Homo sapiens: one gene and its partners. The protein of the gene in region 3 interacts with the protein of the main gene of each other region in a pairwise test. Each region holds a gene or a part of one and is shown on either strand. Other genes may lie near its edges. The genes, in order: RAB39A, RAB39B and RAB3GAP1.

Region 1 (7,330 bases), on a different chromosome or scaffold from region 3:
ACCACTACACCTGGCTAATTTTGTATTTTTAGTAGAGACGGGGATTTCCCCATGTTGGTCAGGCTGGTCTTGAATTCCCGACCTCGGGTGATCCACCTGCCTCAGCCTCCCAAAGTGCTGAGATTACAGGCGCGTGAGCCACCGCGCCTGGCCTAGATGATTGTTTTTTAATGCCTTGAAGAAGAATGTAAATAATAATTCATTTTATGTACATTATTAAAACCAAACAGTAACTCTCGCATTATAATGCAAGGACATTTAGGGAATGTTTACTGACAGTGAGTCATAATTTATTTTGTTTGGCTCTTTACCAAAGTTCTGTTTGTAAATACATACGTATTTCAGTAGCTACCTCCAAATACTTGCTTTTCTCTCATTTACCAGAATGTTTTACCTTAAGATTGCATTTAAAACAATTACTATTAAATCATTCTGTATCTTTCATCAAGAAATTACAGATTCTAATTTTGAATAATAGATATCATTGCATATTTTATTTTATAGAAAGGTACTGTAGGTCATGAAGATGTATTCCTGTCATTAGTCATAATCATATCATGAAGAATTTGTGGGAAATGTCATGTTTGAAGGTTTATTGGTGATTGGATATAAACTGACAAAAAGGAACCTACTTAGCTCATGAGGTAGCTTGAAAGCATAATAAATGTATTACAGAACAATAGGTTAGTGAGTTGGTAATTATGATCGTGATTAGCTTTCGTTTTCTTTCTTTCCTTCTTTTTTTTTTTTTTTTTTTTGAGACAGGGTCTGTCACTCAGGCTGGAATGCAGTGGCACAATGTTGGCTCACTGCAGCCTCCACCTCCCAGGCTCAAGCAATTCTCCTGCCTCAGCCTCCCAAGTGGCTGAGACTACAGACACACACCACCACGCCTAGCTAATTTTTGTATCTTTTTTTGTAAAGACAGGGTTTGGCCATGTTGCCCAGGTTGGTCTGAAACTCCTGGGCTGAAGCAGTCCACCCACCTCGGCCTCCCAAAATGCTGGGATTTCAAGCCTGAACCACTGCGCCAGGCCAGCCTTAGTTTTCAATGTTCAGACTAACATGCTAATAGAGGCTAACTACTTGCCTGAAATAAAAAGGGACAAAATCCAAGTGAAAAAGATTTAGAAAAATAATGTATATGTGAACATAACTGTAGATTTGTATATTAAAGAAATTTAGAATTACAGTGCCTTCATTAAAGATGAAAGTTTATTTCTCTCTTGTGTATAGAGTGGTCCAAGTTGGTGGAGTGGTTCTGCACCAGACCATCATTCAGTTTCCTTCTTCCTTAATTTTCTGCCATGCCTAGGATGTTACCATCATCTACATGAGCAAAGCTGGGTTATAAGCACACTGTGTGTCAGTTCAGGGGAAGGAGAAAGAGCAGCTCTATACCAAGCAAAGTTTCTTTTAAGCAAGTGAGGCCAACATGGTATAGATTCTTTCGGCTCTCAATTCATTGGGGAGATCTTAGTTACAAGGAGACACTTAGACTGGGCCATTATGTGCCTAGGATGTAGGAAAGATGCCTTTGGCACTGTAGGTGTTAGGGGAAGCTAGTAATCACTTTTTTATAAATTTTGGTTTTGTTTTGTTTTTTGAGACAATCTCGCTCTCTCATCCAGGCTGGGTGTGGTGGCCAGATCTTAGCTCACTGCAACCTATGCCTCCCAGGTTCAAGCAATTATTATGCCTCAGCCTCCCAAGTAGCTGGGACTACAGGTGTGTGCCGCCATGCCCAGCTAATTTTTGTATTTTTAGTAGAAATGGGGTTTCAACATGGTGGCTGGGCTGGTCTCGAGCTCCTGGGCTCGTGTAATCTGCCTACCTCAGCCTCCTAAAGTGCTGGGATTAGTTTAGCAGTAAAGGAAACGAGAATATTGTTTAATACAGTGTTAATAAGGATAACTATATTGGAAGAGCTAGGTGTATGGAGAGCATTAAGTGTAAGAATAGAAATTTTGAACTTTTCCCATAAAAAGCGTTTAAAGTTATATGAATATAATATGAGATAAATACATAGCAATGTTAGCTGTAGAATGGGAAACCTCTAGGCTTTGAGCCAGGTTTGGCCTTTTATCTGACGTTACCTGGCCTTTGGGGTATTAATGTCCTCCTCGTGCAGTGCTGTCAAGGAGTGCTCTGCAGAACACTCTTTCCTGTGATTCTTTATATATATATATGTGTGTGTGTGTGTGTGTGTGTGTGTGTGTGTGTGTATTTCTTTCCTTCTTTTTTATTCTTTCTTTTTTTTTTTTTTTTTTTTTGAGTCAGAGTCTCACTCTGTCACCTGGGGCTGGAGTGCAGTGAAACGATCGGCTCACTGCAACCCCCACCTCCCAGGTTCAAGCGATTCTCCTCCCTCAGCCTCCCGAGTAGCTAGGACCACAGGCATGCGCCACAGCACCTGGCCAATTTTTGTATTTTTAGTAGAGATGGAGGTTTCATCAAGCTGGTCTCGAACACCTGATCTCAAGTGATCTGCCCGCCTCGGCCTCCCAAAGTGCTGGGATTACAGGCATGAGCTACTGTGCCTCACCTGTGATTCTTTTTTTTTTTTTGAGATGGAGTCTTGCTCTTGTGCAGTGGCGCAATCTCGGCTCACTGCAACCTCTGCCTTCCAGGTCCAAGCGATTCTCCTGCCTCAGCCTCCTGAGTAGCTGGGATTACAGGCGCCCCAAGCTCAACTAATTTTTGTACTTTTAGTAGAGACGAGGTTTCACCATATTGGCCAGGCTGGTCTCGAACTCCTGACCTCAAGTGATCCACCCGCCTCAGCCTCCCAAAGTGCTGGGATTACAAGCGTAAGCCACCGCACCCAGCCTGTGATTCTTTTTAAAAGAAGCATTCTGTGATCAAGTAAGTTTGGAAATCCCTGTATTCCATATGGCACTCTCTTAAAAATTCATATCAAAGGCTCGAAGAAGTATTGCAGCAAAGAAACCTGTTTAACTTTGATTAACCTAGTATTTCCCAATTTATTTTAGGGGCTATTTTTAAAATATGAAAATCTAGGCTGGATGCGGTGAGTCACGTCTGTAATCCTAACACTTTGGGAAGCTGAGGCAGGAGAATTACTTGAAGCTAGGAGTTCAAGACCAGCCTAGACAACAAATCAAGACCCTGTCTCTAACCAAAAAAAAATTTTTTTAATTAGCTGGGCATGGTGGCATGGACCTGCATCCCCAGCTGCTCAGGAGGCTGAAGTAGGAGGGTGGTTTGAGCCCAGGAGGTCGAGGCTTCTGTGAGCTATGATCATGCCACTGCACTCCAGCCTGGGTGACAGAGCTAGACCCTGTCTCTAAAAAGAGGAAAAAGAAAATCTATGATAACTGGTGCTCTAAGGAGTATAATTTGGGAATAGCTCCCTTGATAAGTTGCCTTAGCATATTCTTTGAGCAGAACCACTAAATACTTGAGGTTTGTAGCAATGGAAGACCTGCAGACAAACTTAACCAATTAATTAACTTGGTTAAGGGCTGTAAGCAGTAAGTGCTATAAGAGAAAGCCTCAGGCCGGGCGTGGTGGCTCACACCTGTAATCCCAGCACTTTGGGAGGCCAAGGCGAGTGGATCACCTGAAGTCAGGAGTTCGAGACCAGCCTGGCCAAACATGGTGAAACCCCCATCTCTACTAAAAATACAAAAATTAGCCAGGCGTGGTGGCAGGCGCCTGTAATCCCAGCTACTCAGGAGGCTGAGGTGGGAGAATCGCTTGAACCCAGGAAGCGGAGGTTGCGGTGAGCCGAGATTACACCATTTCACTCCAGCCTGGGGGACAAGAGCGAGACTTCGTCTCAAAAAAAAAAAAAAAAAAAAAATAGAGACAGCCTCCCTCCTCTCCCTTCCCCACAGAATCTGGGAGCAGCCCCTAACTATTACCACTAAATCTTCCCGGCCTTTGCCTGCCTCTCCATGTTTTTTCCCCTAGCTCCTCTTCTGCTATGCATCTTTCTCCTTGCCAGGTGTCTTACTGTTACAGGAAAGGGGTCCCGATCCAGACCCCAAGAGAGGGTTCTTGGATCTTGCACAAGAAAGAATTCAGGGCAAGTCTGCAGTGTAAAATGAAAGCAAGTTTATTAAGAAAGTAAAGTGGTGAAAGAACAGCTACTACACAGACAGAGTAGGACGTACCTGAAAGTAGCAGGAGGAACGCATCCGCCCTAGGTACAATGCTTGTATATATATGAGGAGATGTGCTCTCTGCCACAAGGGTTTGTGATAAAGGATTAATTTTCTTTCTTCTTCTTTTTTTTTTTTTGGAGACAGAGTCTGGCTCTGTCGCCTAGGCTGGAGTGCAGTGGTGCGATCTCGGCTCACTGCAAGCTCCACCTCCCGGGTTCACACCATTCTCCTGCCTCAGCCTCCCGAGTAGCTGGGACTACAGGCGCCTGCCACCATGCCCGGCTAATTTTTTGTATTTTCAGTAGGGACAAGGTTTCACTTTGTTAGCCAGGCTTGTCTCGAACTCCTGACCTCAGGTGATTCACCTGCCTCGGCCTCCCAAAGTGCTGGGATTACAGGTGTGAGCCACCGCGCCCAGCTAATAAAGGATTAATTTTCTTAATTACCACATTTTGCAAGAATCGATATTATTATCTTTAAAGCAAAATTAGGAATGCCTTTGTTCTCCAGATATTGGAATATCTGGACACTCCCAAGTCTGGGTCTGTTTAGTAAACATTATTAATTTGTTCCCTTAGCCATAAACATCTAGAGGCTAGGAATGCCCAACTTTCTGGGGAACGCAGCCCAGCAAGTCCTGGCCACTTTTTTTTTTTTTTTTTTTTTTTTTGAGACAGTTTTGCTCTGTCACCCAGGCTGGAGGGCAGTGGTGTCATCCTGGCTTACTGCAACCTCTCCCTCTTGGATTCAAGCAATTCTCCAGCCTCCCAAGTAGCTGGGATTACAGGTGTGTGCCACCATACTCAGCTAGTTTTTGTATTTTTAGTAGAGACAGGGTTTCAGCATGTTGGCCAGGCTGGTCTCGAATTCCTGACCTCAAGTGATCCGCCCACCTCGGCCTCCCAAAGTGGTGGCATTACAGGCGTGAGCCACTGCACCTGGCGTCATTTTCCTAGCCCTTGCTCAAAATGGAGTCACTCTGGTTCGAATGCCTCTGACATTAGTCCCCCTCCAGCTTATTTTTATTTTTTCTTTACCCCTTTCCTCTGTCTATCCATACTGATGTTTACTTTCATCCTCTTCCCCCCACCCCATTTTTATTTTAATGTGTCTCTTACTCTTCCATTTCCTTTTAGCTTATCTTCCCTTATCCCACTGGCTTATCTTCTCTTCTCCCACTGGCTACCGCATGTGTCTGTTTTCTCTTCTGCCTCTTCCAAACATCCATATAAAGTTAATGTTTCAAAGTGATTTAATTTATGTACTCTGTTCTTAATTTTAAAAGCAAGCAATATTAACATTTTAAATTTCTTCTTAAGAGACTTTTTAAAATCTCTAAACTAAATTAGTTATTTTTGGTTTTGTTTCTTTTTAAAAAGTCCCTCATTTGATTCTCAGCTCCCTCACTGTGGTTCATGGCCTTCAAAAGAAAACGATTTTTTGTTCCTTCAGTAGAAAATGATTGGTACCAGTCTGGCAAACATGGTGAAACCCCATCTCTACTAAAAATACAAAAACAAATTAGCTGTGCATGGTGGTGCACACCTATAATCCCAGCTACTTGGGAGGCTGAGGCAGGAAAATCCCTTGAACCCAGAAGGTGGAGGTTGCAAGGTTGCAGTGAGCCGAGATTGCGCCCCTGCTCTCCAGCCTGGGTGACAGAGCGAGACTCCCCCTCCAAAAAAAAAAAAACAAATGAAGAAAATGATTGGTGGGTCCATAATTGCATAGGTAACAGAGCAGAGATGACCATAATCACTGCAGTCTACTGTAGTTCCAAGTTATTGTTAATAGAAAGGTCAGCTATAGTTCTATTATCAGGTAATATAATGTCTTAGTTAAAAGTGTATTGTAAGTAGTAGAAATCTAGCCAAATTCATTTATTTATTTGTTTTTTAGAGACAGAGTTTTGCTGTGTAGCCCAGGTTGAAGTGCAGTGGCACAATCATAGCTCACTGCAGCCCAAACTCTTGGGCTCCAGTGATCCTCTTACCTTAGCCTCCTGAGTAGCTAGGACTACAAGCACATGCTATGGCACCCAGCTAATTAAAAAAAAAAAAAATTTGTAGAGACAGGGTCTCGCTGTATTGCCCAGGCTGGTTTTGAACTTCTTGCTTCAAGTGATCCTCCCTCCTTGGCCTCCCAAAGTGTTGGGATTACAGCCATGAGCCACTGCACCAGGCCCAAATTAGTTTAATAGGGAATAAATTATAAATGATACAGATTTCATGAAAGCAAAAGCTCACTGAACATCCAGGTGTTTGGAAGTATGGAATTATTACTATTTTTTTTTTTTTTGAGATGGAGTCTTGCTCTGTCGCCCAGGCTGGAGTGCAGTGGCGCAATCTCGGCTCACTGCAAGCTCCGCCTCCTGGGTTCAAGTGATTCTCCTGCCTCAGCCTCCCAAGTAGCTGGGATTACAGGCACCTGCCACCATGCCCAGCTAGGAAGTATGAAAAATTTTAAAACAAGAGTTTGTGGACTTCCCCTCTAGTCTATTTCCCTTCTCCAACTCTGTTGGCTCCTAGCTCTCAGTCTCTGAGCCTCTTATTCAAACTCTTGAAAGAAAAAATATCTCATTGACTACTTAACTATCCAGTGAATCAGCTCCCCTGCAGTCAGGTTATTGAGTTACACAGACATATAATACAAATGTATTATAACATAAATATACTAAGTAGGTATTATGGGTCAGATAATGTAAATGTATCTGTAAAGGTCCACTTTTTTGGAAAGAGAAATTCACAGAGAAGGGAAATGAGCAGTCACCCCCAAAGTGTCTATTTTATGGTGTTTGAGAGTAAAATGGTATATAAGAATGAGATGGCCAGGCATGGTGGCTCACGCCTGTAATCCCAGCACTTTGGGAGGCCGAGCCGGGCGGATCACCTGAGGTCAGGAGTTCGAGGCCAGCCTGGCCAACATGGTGAAACCCAGTCTCTACTAAAAATACAAAAATTAGCCGGTTATGGTGCACACCTGTAATCCCAGCTACTCGAGAGGCGGAGGCAGGAGAATTGCTTGAACCCAGGAAGAGGAGGTTGCAGTGAGCCGAGATCACGCCACTGCACTCCAGTCTGGGCAATAGAGCAAGACTCCGTCTCAAAAAAAAAAAAAAAAAAAAAGAATGAGACAGCATCGTTTCTAACAAGTGCACCAGAGTGCCAAAAGATGATCTGTGTAGCCAGACATTTTTAGGC
Region 2 (4,087 bases), on a different chromosome or scaffold from region 3:
AGACTCAGAATCCATTATCTTTCCTTTTTTTTTTAACCCTCCCCCCACCCTCATGTGTACTATCAATCCTGGGAAATGTGCTGAACTATTGTGTTCTTATGTTGGTGCCACACTGTAAGTGATCCTGGCATAAAAAGCATGCCGTAGTAGGATTTGAAAAAGCTGAGGCAACTTAGCCTGGAAAAAAGAAGACTTTCCAGGGAACATAATAGTTGTAATCAACTACTTGGCAACAGAATTAAGACTCTTGATTAAAAATCATCATGATGAAGATTTAGGCTTGACAGAACCAACTTTTCTCAAAGTGGCATATGCTCACCAGGAAGTATTGAGGTCCCAGGGACTTTTGATATGATGGTCAGATAACTTTCAAAAATTATATTCTCTTTCTGGCTTTAAGGTAATGGTGAATACGATTGTGTATGGTATATGTCACATCTTATTGATATCCTTGGTAGTAGTTGCTACGCTGTAGTAACAGATTCTGGAAATAGCTATAACACACACTTGGAATCTCACAGTCACATAATCAATCATTTTACTAAATACAAGCATATTTTCATTCACATACAGCTAAATAAAGCATTTTTCACATTTCATTACAGTGCACAACAAAGTGAGGAAAAGTATACAGTACATTTTATTCTGAAATATGAGACAATCTAATCCAACATGCAGTTGTGGTCTTTGTTACAAGTTAGTTTATCTTTTCTTTACCTATGTAGTAAAATAGCTTCTAAAGCTTTATCCTTAGTATTATATTAACACCTGATTCTTTTCACACTTATTTTCTAAAACCCACTTATTGCAGTGACAATGGTACTGAATTCTACTAAAATGATTTTTAAATTTTCTAGAACTTATTTAAGCAATTAAGCTCAGCCACCTCTGCTGGATTTATGCTGAATATTTTTAAACCTGCCAGAAAATGCCAGGAGTGGGAATACTGTACATATAATAAATTTTAGTGAAGAAAATTGTAGGGAAGTTTTGTTTCTTTCCTTTTTTGAACTGACAGAATCCAGTCGACTCTCATTTACCCACTGGATAATCTTGCTTTCAGAATCTTCTAAACATAATTCAGTATAGCAGTTGATGAAATTTTGTGTTAATGAAATTTGCCATGTTTTGTTTGTCTTTTACAACCACGAAGGTGGCAATTTAATTACCCCACCTAAGCCAGCTCTTGTGAAATGAATATAGAGAAGATGATCAGTTCACTTGTAGTTAATGCTGTGAACTGATCCAAAGTGGTTTGCTCATCCAACTTGGGGCACAGGTGGCAGAATAGTCTTCCATAATTTTCATGATTTGGTTTCTTTATTCTGGCTAAAGCAAATTCCCAAAGTTTCAGATTCGGTCACATTCATACTGAAGTTCAATATTATATCTCAAAGCGATTTGCCATTCTTAGGCCTTCCTATCACAATGGATATGAGAAACCTGACTCTAGTCAGAATAGTTTTTTTTTTTAATTGTGAAAAGTATGGCTTTTGCCTAGCTGAACTGGCTACAATCCAAAAAGTAATTTAAAGCATCACCTCTCTTCAAGAAAATAATGGAAACTTCAAGCCAGCCATTCCAATTTGCTGATGCAGTTAGCTGTTTGTTCACCTGAGAATTAAGGGCTGACTCTCTTGGGTAGACAGGAACTCAGTGTACGTATATGGCAGACAGGTGGCCAAGGTCATTTTGGGGTGGGTATTTTATCCCTATCCCACTCCGCATTGCTGTACGTGGTTCCTTTCAATAAAAATCCACTGTGTCTCAGTGATAAGAACACTTATAGCCCACACAGTTCTAATGTCTTTTTAGTTGTGCAATTATTCACTTGTTTAAAGCCCTCTTGTCAATAATGCCTGAATGGGCTTTACCTTTGATTCCTTCCCATGTTCCCTCAGGATTATAGCTGAGTTGTAATCAATAAGGAAAACATATCCTAACATGTAGAGAACATTTATTTATAGTCATATCTCTTCCCAAGTAAACAAATTCATAATCATTTATTCATCTGACAGCAGTATGATGCAGTGAAAAGAGCTAGGAGTCACGAGTCCTTGACCCTGGCCAAGTGATTTTCATGGCTCTTAGTTTACTATTCTGTAAAATGGGGCAAAAACCTCGTAGGCCTGTTATGATGATCAAATAAGTAGCCCAAGTAACTGTAAGCTGTTTGTAAGGGTTACAGTGCCTCCTGTTCAGCAGGAGAGAGTGTTTGCCTCAGGGCTCTTTTCAGAGGCAGTCACTGTGTTGTCACTGTCACGTGCCTGAAGAAGCAAGCAGACTGTTTACTTCCAGATTGCAGGTGCCAAGGCATTGAAACCCCAGGCATGGTCAAAGGAAAAAGGGGGTATGGCATTTGGGTTATAGTGTCTCTTTCCTAGTTATAGGGTAATTTGCATGGGACAATTTGTTTCATACAGCTGGTAATTCTATCACAAGGGTGTTCATTTTCTGAAATGTGCTAATAACTGTGTCGATTGCCTTCCTTTCCATAGTCACATCATTTTTACTTGAACACCAGACCTTTTGGTCTGTGTTCCTCATTTTACAGAAAGCTGTTAAAAGCTAATTGGTACCTTTTAACCAAACCCAGCAAACACCTTTGGTGCAGGGTATTCTCACGGAATAAGTAGAGCTCATAATCTTTGTTTAGTTATGCTAATTGTCCCCATTGTGAAACTTTTTTCCCCTTTATGTATTTCTTTATGTTCATGGCCTATAAGTGAGCTCAAATACCAAGGAACAGTTGTCCTGTCTGTAGGTATGTTTTCCTGGGACTTAGCTTCCTAAACCCCAGGCCTTTAACATGTGGTCCACAAAGGGCTCATGGAGCAGCCACTGCCTAGCATGGGCCACAAAACAGTGCCTGGCCTGGCCCATGTCAGCAATTCAGTCCCTTGGTCACAGCACTCAGGCACCCCCATCCACCCGCACACGAGTCTGTCAGAGTCCCCCTGAGAGGGAGGCTCACTTGGTATCCAAATGGAGGTTGAGTTCTCATCAGTTACACAAAGATTCTATTTATTTCTCTTACTTTTCAGTTCAAGTAGGAGAGCATGTTTTGGAAATAAAAGAACTGACTAGCACAAACATCTCCTCTCTGATTTGACAACCTCTTCTGAAGAGTGAACCACATTTGGTACAAATCCACTCTTCACCCCTTCCCAGCCCTCCTGGATTGTAATCTCCCCCCTTTTAACCAGCTCATATATGTCTCTTGTCAGGTCTGTGAAGGCTTTCTCCACATTAATGGCATCTCGGGCTGACGTTTCAATGTACTTCATGCCGTATGCAGCAGCCAGTTTCTCGGCCTCGTGGCGAGTCACTTGCCTCTGTGTATCCAGGTCACACTTGTGACCCACCAGAACAAATACAATTTGGTAGGGCTGAACGTGTACTTTGGTCTCTTCTAACCACTCATGGACATTCTGGAAGGACCTGCGGTTGGTAATGTCAAATAAGAGAAGACCACCTACTGAGTTCCTGTAGTAGGCGCGAGTGATGGATCTAAAACACAAGAAAGAAGTAAAGAGTAAAGGCTGTGCCCAAACTTCTGCATGTCAATGAACTCAGTATATTCAAGTGTTCCTGGTTAGTGACACAGTCCTTTAATAAAAATGATTTTCTTTTTTTTTAAAAAAACAAAGGAATACAAATGGCATTCCATACTACTACTAATATGTGAGTTTCCAATTGGGCCAAACTTTGAGATGGGCATCTTCTAGAAACGAATGTTCATGAACTTTTAGGCATTTTCCATGGATTCAGCACTGGAGAGTGACCCTGGGACATAACTGAGTTCTATTTCTTGCCTTCAGGTAAAACTACAACTAACTCTCCCACCCCCCAAATCTGAATAACTGACAGAGACTTCCTTTTCTGCAAAATAGGATACCCAAGTCACAGTGTTACCATGAGGCAAAATGAAACAATGGATATTAAAGTGTTCTGTGACGTGGAGAGTTCATTACAAATGCTAGCAGTTGAAACAGGATTTTTAAAACATAGAAATGAATTTATGATAGTTAACAAAATATTTAAAGTAGGTATCTTGCTACTCCATTTTTTCCATTTATCATTACCA
Region 3 (4,249 bases):
TGGTCTTGCCTTAGTTCACCTCACCATCTTCATTTCTTGCCCCTTCCCACTCTAGATACCACACTTCAGCCAAATAGAAATGTTGGCTGCCCCCCAAATAGACATTTTCCCTTATTTCTGGGATTTTGCCCATTCCGTTCCTCTGCTTGTAATACGCTTTCTGCCCCCTCCTGTCAGTTACCTTTTGCCCCAACTCTCACCCTAGAGTGGCCTTCTTCACAGTGGCTTCAAGGCTCCTGGCAAGAAGGGAGGGCAAGCCCCAATGTGCAAGGACTTGTCAAGTCTCTGTCTGTTGACCAAAGAAAGACATGGCCGAGACCAGATTGAAGAGGTGGAGAAATAAAGCACTTCACAATGAAAATCATGATTTCATTGCACACAGGGCTGGAGGAATGCCTGGTTCTCTGCAAGCCATTTCCCATACGCCCCCCATGCTTTCCCCAGTGCCTACTCAGCTTCTGGTCTCAATCCCAAAATCACACCCTCTGGGGTAATTTTCCTGATCCTCAAAGCCTGGGTGAAGAAACTCCTACAACACTTTATGACATTGCTGCATTTATTACTCCGTACTGCCAATGAATACATGAATGTAGGATTACATTCAATTATTTGTAGGATAAATGCAGGCCCTCCGATCCACACAGCAGAGTTGACTATACTCAACATTTTGTGGCAACGTGGTGTCAGTTTTCCCTGTAAGGGAGTGTGTTTTGGTTTCTGTTTTATCTTCATTGCTTGTACTGTACCTGACACAAAGTGGGTACTTAAATATATCTGTGAAATAAATACATAACTATCATAAAAATAAAATGGAGTACTTTAAAAAGGCACAAAGAATGTTCTTGAGACCACTGCCTTGTTAGGCTCAGCAGGCTGCAAACATTAGAGCTGAGACAGCACAAAACCACATGAAATTAGACTGAAATGCCTCAGCGGGAGAAAATGAAAGAAAACGCCACAGAAAGCGACACTTTCCTTTTATTAGATTCACAATGCCTTTGTAACGCCCAACCTCTCCTTTGTAGAATTTTTCTTTGTTAGAAAACAGACAAACTCTGTCCTTAGGAACCGTCTTCTACTTGGTACAGCACTGGCCTCAGGCCGCCTGCATCTGCGTGGACCAGTAAGAATGAAGTCCAGCAGCATAGAGAAAAGCATCATAAAGGCTGGGAGGTCATCCCCCAGGGCCTCCCCTACTTCACATACACAGAGACGTGTGCATATGTCACACACACACACATATTATATATAGATATGTATTTTTTTTTTTTTTTACAAAAATAACAGGGTTTGCACAGCTCTATTAATTTTTTAAAATTACACAGGCAAGGTTTATGCTTCAGTATAACCATTTTTACTTTGGATTTAAGTGGGAATTTTAGGCCTAAAAATAAGATTACCAAGCAGAGGCCATCTAGCCACACAGACACAAGACATCTTGAGCTCCATGAAACTAGAAATGTGGTGATGTCATCCTCACACGGGGGGGCTACACATCCCCATCGATTATTTTAACTAAAATACAAAAGCAAAATAGTGTGTTAAAATAATCCTCTACTCAATGCATTAGCACATATACCAAATTATACTATCTGCATGACAGTCTCTAGGTACCAAGACTGTATTTTTGCAAGTGCTATTCTCTACTTCATTAAATACAGTACCCAGCCAGCAACCACAAAAAGAGAACGCATGCTGTACAGCAAGAGAAGGGGAGGGAGACGATTTTCAGGGCCATAACTTCCATGGCAACCAAAAGAAAAATAAGTAAGACAAATCTCACATGACAGATATAAAACTAATTTGCAGTGACATTTGATATATAGTTTTATCAGAAGTAATACATTTAGGTTACAGTTACATGAAAAAGAGAAACTATGTGAAATTATAGGCTTTCTCCTAGAATATCCAAAATGCTCATCAACAGTTAATTAGTACAAGAAAGATGACCACCAGGTGATTGAATAGACAGAATGTCATGTAGTATTTTAAAAACACAGATTCTGGGACTAGAAGCTACCACCAAAATATCCAGAAATCTGAGTTAACAGGTCCTTTATTTTGCACACTTGCTGCTGATATATAGAACCACGAAGTGTTTGCACAGACCACGAATGCAGCCGCTAGCCTAGAGGCTGGTCACAGAAGAGAATGCGATGAACACCGTCCTGCCAGTGTGAGGACGGAGTGTCTGATGTGTTTGTGTCCCCCCACCACCCCCCCATATACAAAGGCCATCTCTAGGGCAGAAATCTCTCAACAGCTCAAGCCCATCCTCGCTGCCCCCTCCACGAAACGACACAGCTCAAGCTTGGTGCTGGGAAGTCTTTCCGATGCTGGTTTGATTCCTGATCACCCAACTGGACAGGGCCCTCTCCAGGACCTCCCAGGTTCTCCCTGGTACCTTCCCTCCCTCAGGAGGAGGCAGCACTGTCTCTGAAGCCACCAACGAGTAATGCTAGAAGAATCAGAAGAAGGAAGTATCTGATGAAAAGGCACCTGCAAGTCTAAAGTCCTCTTTGGTGAGAACACTGTACATCCGCTGAGGCAGAGCTTTGGAGTAGGGAGCAGGGCGCGGCACAGTGGTGCGCAAAATGAATTCCCGGCCAGCAGGGGGTGGGAAGTCTGACACGGAGTTCTGCCTTCTTTCCTCTGGGGAGCCCATTCTCTTCAATTCCTCCTCTGGTGGAGTCATAGCTGCAGCCTGGAAAAGAATCAAATGCTAAAGTCAAAAGCAGGTCAAATGCTAAACTCAGATGCTTTTGAAGGACAGATGAATTAACATAATAAAGATATGAAAATGTCCCACGTTACTCAGTAATGCAGTCAGCTATATGTTAAGATTACTCAAAAACCACATAACACAGCAAATGCAAGAAGCTTGAGACACTGCATGAGCAGCCGGGCTGGAGACAGACAGGAGGGATGATGACTGCCAGGCAATCTGCTCTGAAGAGAGAAGGCCATATTTACACATCTGATGAAAAAGGACCTCGGAGCTGTGCTGCTTTCTATGTTTCTTCCAGCAATGACCCAAGTCTACGTCTGACAGCCTCAGTCCAGTAAGGAGCTGTTTTTCTCCAGAGTGAAAAGATGATTTTCATCTTGACTCTGGGTAAGAATTTTTTAATCGATTCTTTTTAAGGTTCACTTGCCAAATTAAAAGTGGGGGCATTGGTCTTGCTTGCTGGGCAGCTAATGTGATGCCGAAGTGATAGAGGCCCATATAGCAATGACCACAAAAGAGAAGTTCGCAATATTAAAGGCATCTATTTTTTCATTGAAATGACATAAAATGCATGTTCATTTACAGCCTACAATTTTAATTCTGATTACTGTACTTTTTTTAATACCATCAATTTGGGAAAAAAAATTGTTTTGGCAATGGAAACATGAAATCATGTTGCGCTAAACATCAGCAAGGTAGGTAAGCCAAATCCAGACTGTGAGAGAGGTGGTTAGTGTTAATGACCTTATGAAATTAGAGGGATGGGAAGGAACAAGGAACTATGAGGGGCAAAGGCTATTTTGTTACCTCATCAGAAGATTCAGTCAGCTTGAGAAGGGGTAAGAAAAGAAACAGTGATGAAAGGGAAACAAGCAAGATGGTTTAAATAGGGCTAGACAAGGGAGTTCAGGATTATTTCAAAGACAGTATGCACTACATTATGGAACATGATCCTATCAAAAGAATATTCAAGACAAAGTCACACCAAACACAGCACACCCAGCTGTCAACTACAGCAGACATCTACTACTACTCATGCATCCATGGCTCAACAGGTGACATATGATGTCATTTAATGGGAGAAATGAACAACAAAAACCTAGCTCTTTTACTGGGAATTATGATGCAAAAAAAAAAAAAAGTGTTCATGGCTTGAAAAATAGAATTTAGGAATAGGTGCCTAACAGTTATTCAATCTAGCAAGTCTGAAGCGAAATCCAGTCAGTCATTTATTTGCTGAATTCCATTTAAGTATGTACATACCAGAGATACCTATAATCATGATAAGGCTTATTACTATTTATAATTTTAAAGAAAAGTTATAAATATATAGAATTACTATAAGCTATAAAAACACCAAGTGAAATTACATCACAACTTTTTAAAAAAATGTGTTAAAATCTTGACTAATTAGTAAAATTGATATAAAGTATCAGCTAATGAAAAGTTACATGAATAAATTCTAACAGTTTACTTCAGCCAGACATTTAAAACTGAGTTTAAAAATGTACCAACCAGATG

Evidence for each region.
Region 1: the proteins of RAB3GAP1 (region 3) and RAB39A interact in a two-hybrid assay, tested with the Homo sapiens proteins (one study listed by BioGRID).
Region 2: the proteins of RAB3GAP1 (region 3) and RAB39B interact in a two-hybrid assay, tested with the Homo sapiens proteins (one study listed by BioGRID).

What each region holds. Positions count from the first base shown.
Region 1 is NC_000011.10:107,931,126-107,938,455, forward strand, and holds part of RAB39A (ras-related protein Rab-39A), read left to right. Parts: intron 1-7,330. UniProt on the Homo sapiens protein: The small GTPases Rab are key regulators of intracellular membrane trafficking, from the formation of transport vesicles to their fusion with membranes.
Region 2 is NC_000023.11:155,257,720-155,261,806, forward strand, and holds the end of RAB39B (ras-related protein Rab-39B), read right to left. Parts: intron 3,511-4,087; coding exon 3,084-3,510; 3' UTR 516-3,083; downstream 1-515. UniProt on the Homo sapiens protein: The small GTPases Rab are key regulators of intracellular membrane trafficking, from the formation of transport vesicles to their fusion with membranes.
Region 3 is NC_000002.12:135,167,000-135,171,248, reverse strand, and holds the end of RAB3GAP1 (rab3 GTPase-activating protein catalytic subunit), read right to left. Parts: intron 3,557-4,249; coding exon of another isoform or gene 3,536-3,556; intron 2,705-3,535; coding exon 2,468-2,704; 3' UTR 1,516-2,467; coding exon of another isoform or gene 1,490-1,515; 3' UTR 539-1,489; downstream 1-538. UniProt on the Homo sapiens protein: Catalytic subunit of the Rab3 GTPase-activating (Rab3GAP) complex composed of RAB3GAP1 and RAB3GAP2, which has GTPase-activating protein (GAP) activity towards various Rab3 subfamily members (RAB3A, RAB3B, RAB3C and RAB3D), RAB5A and RAB43, and guanine nucleotide exchange factor (GEF) activity towards RAB18.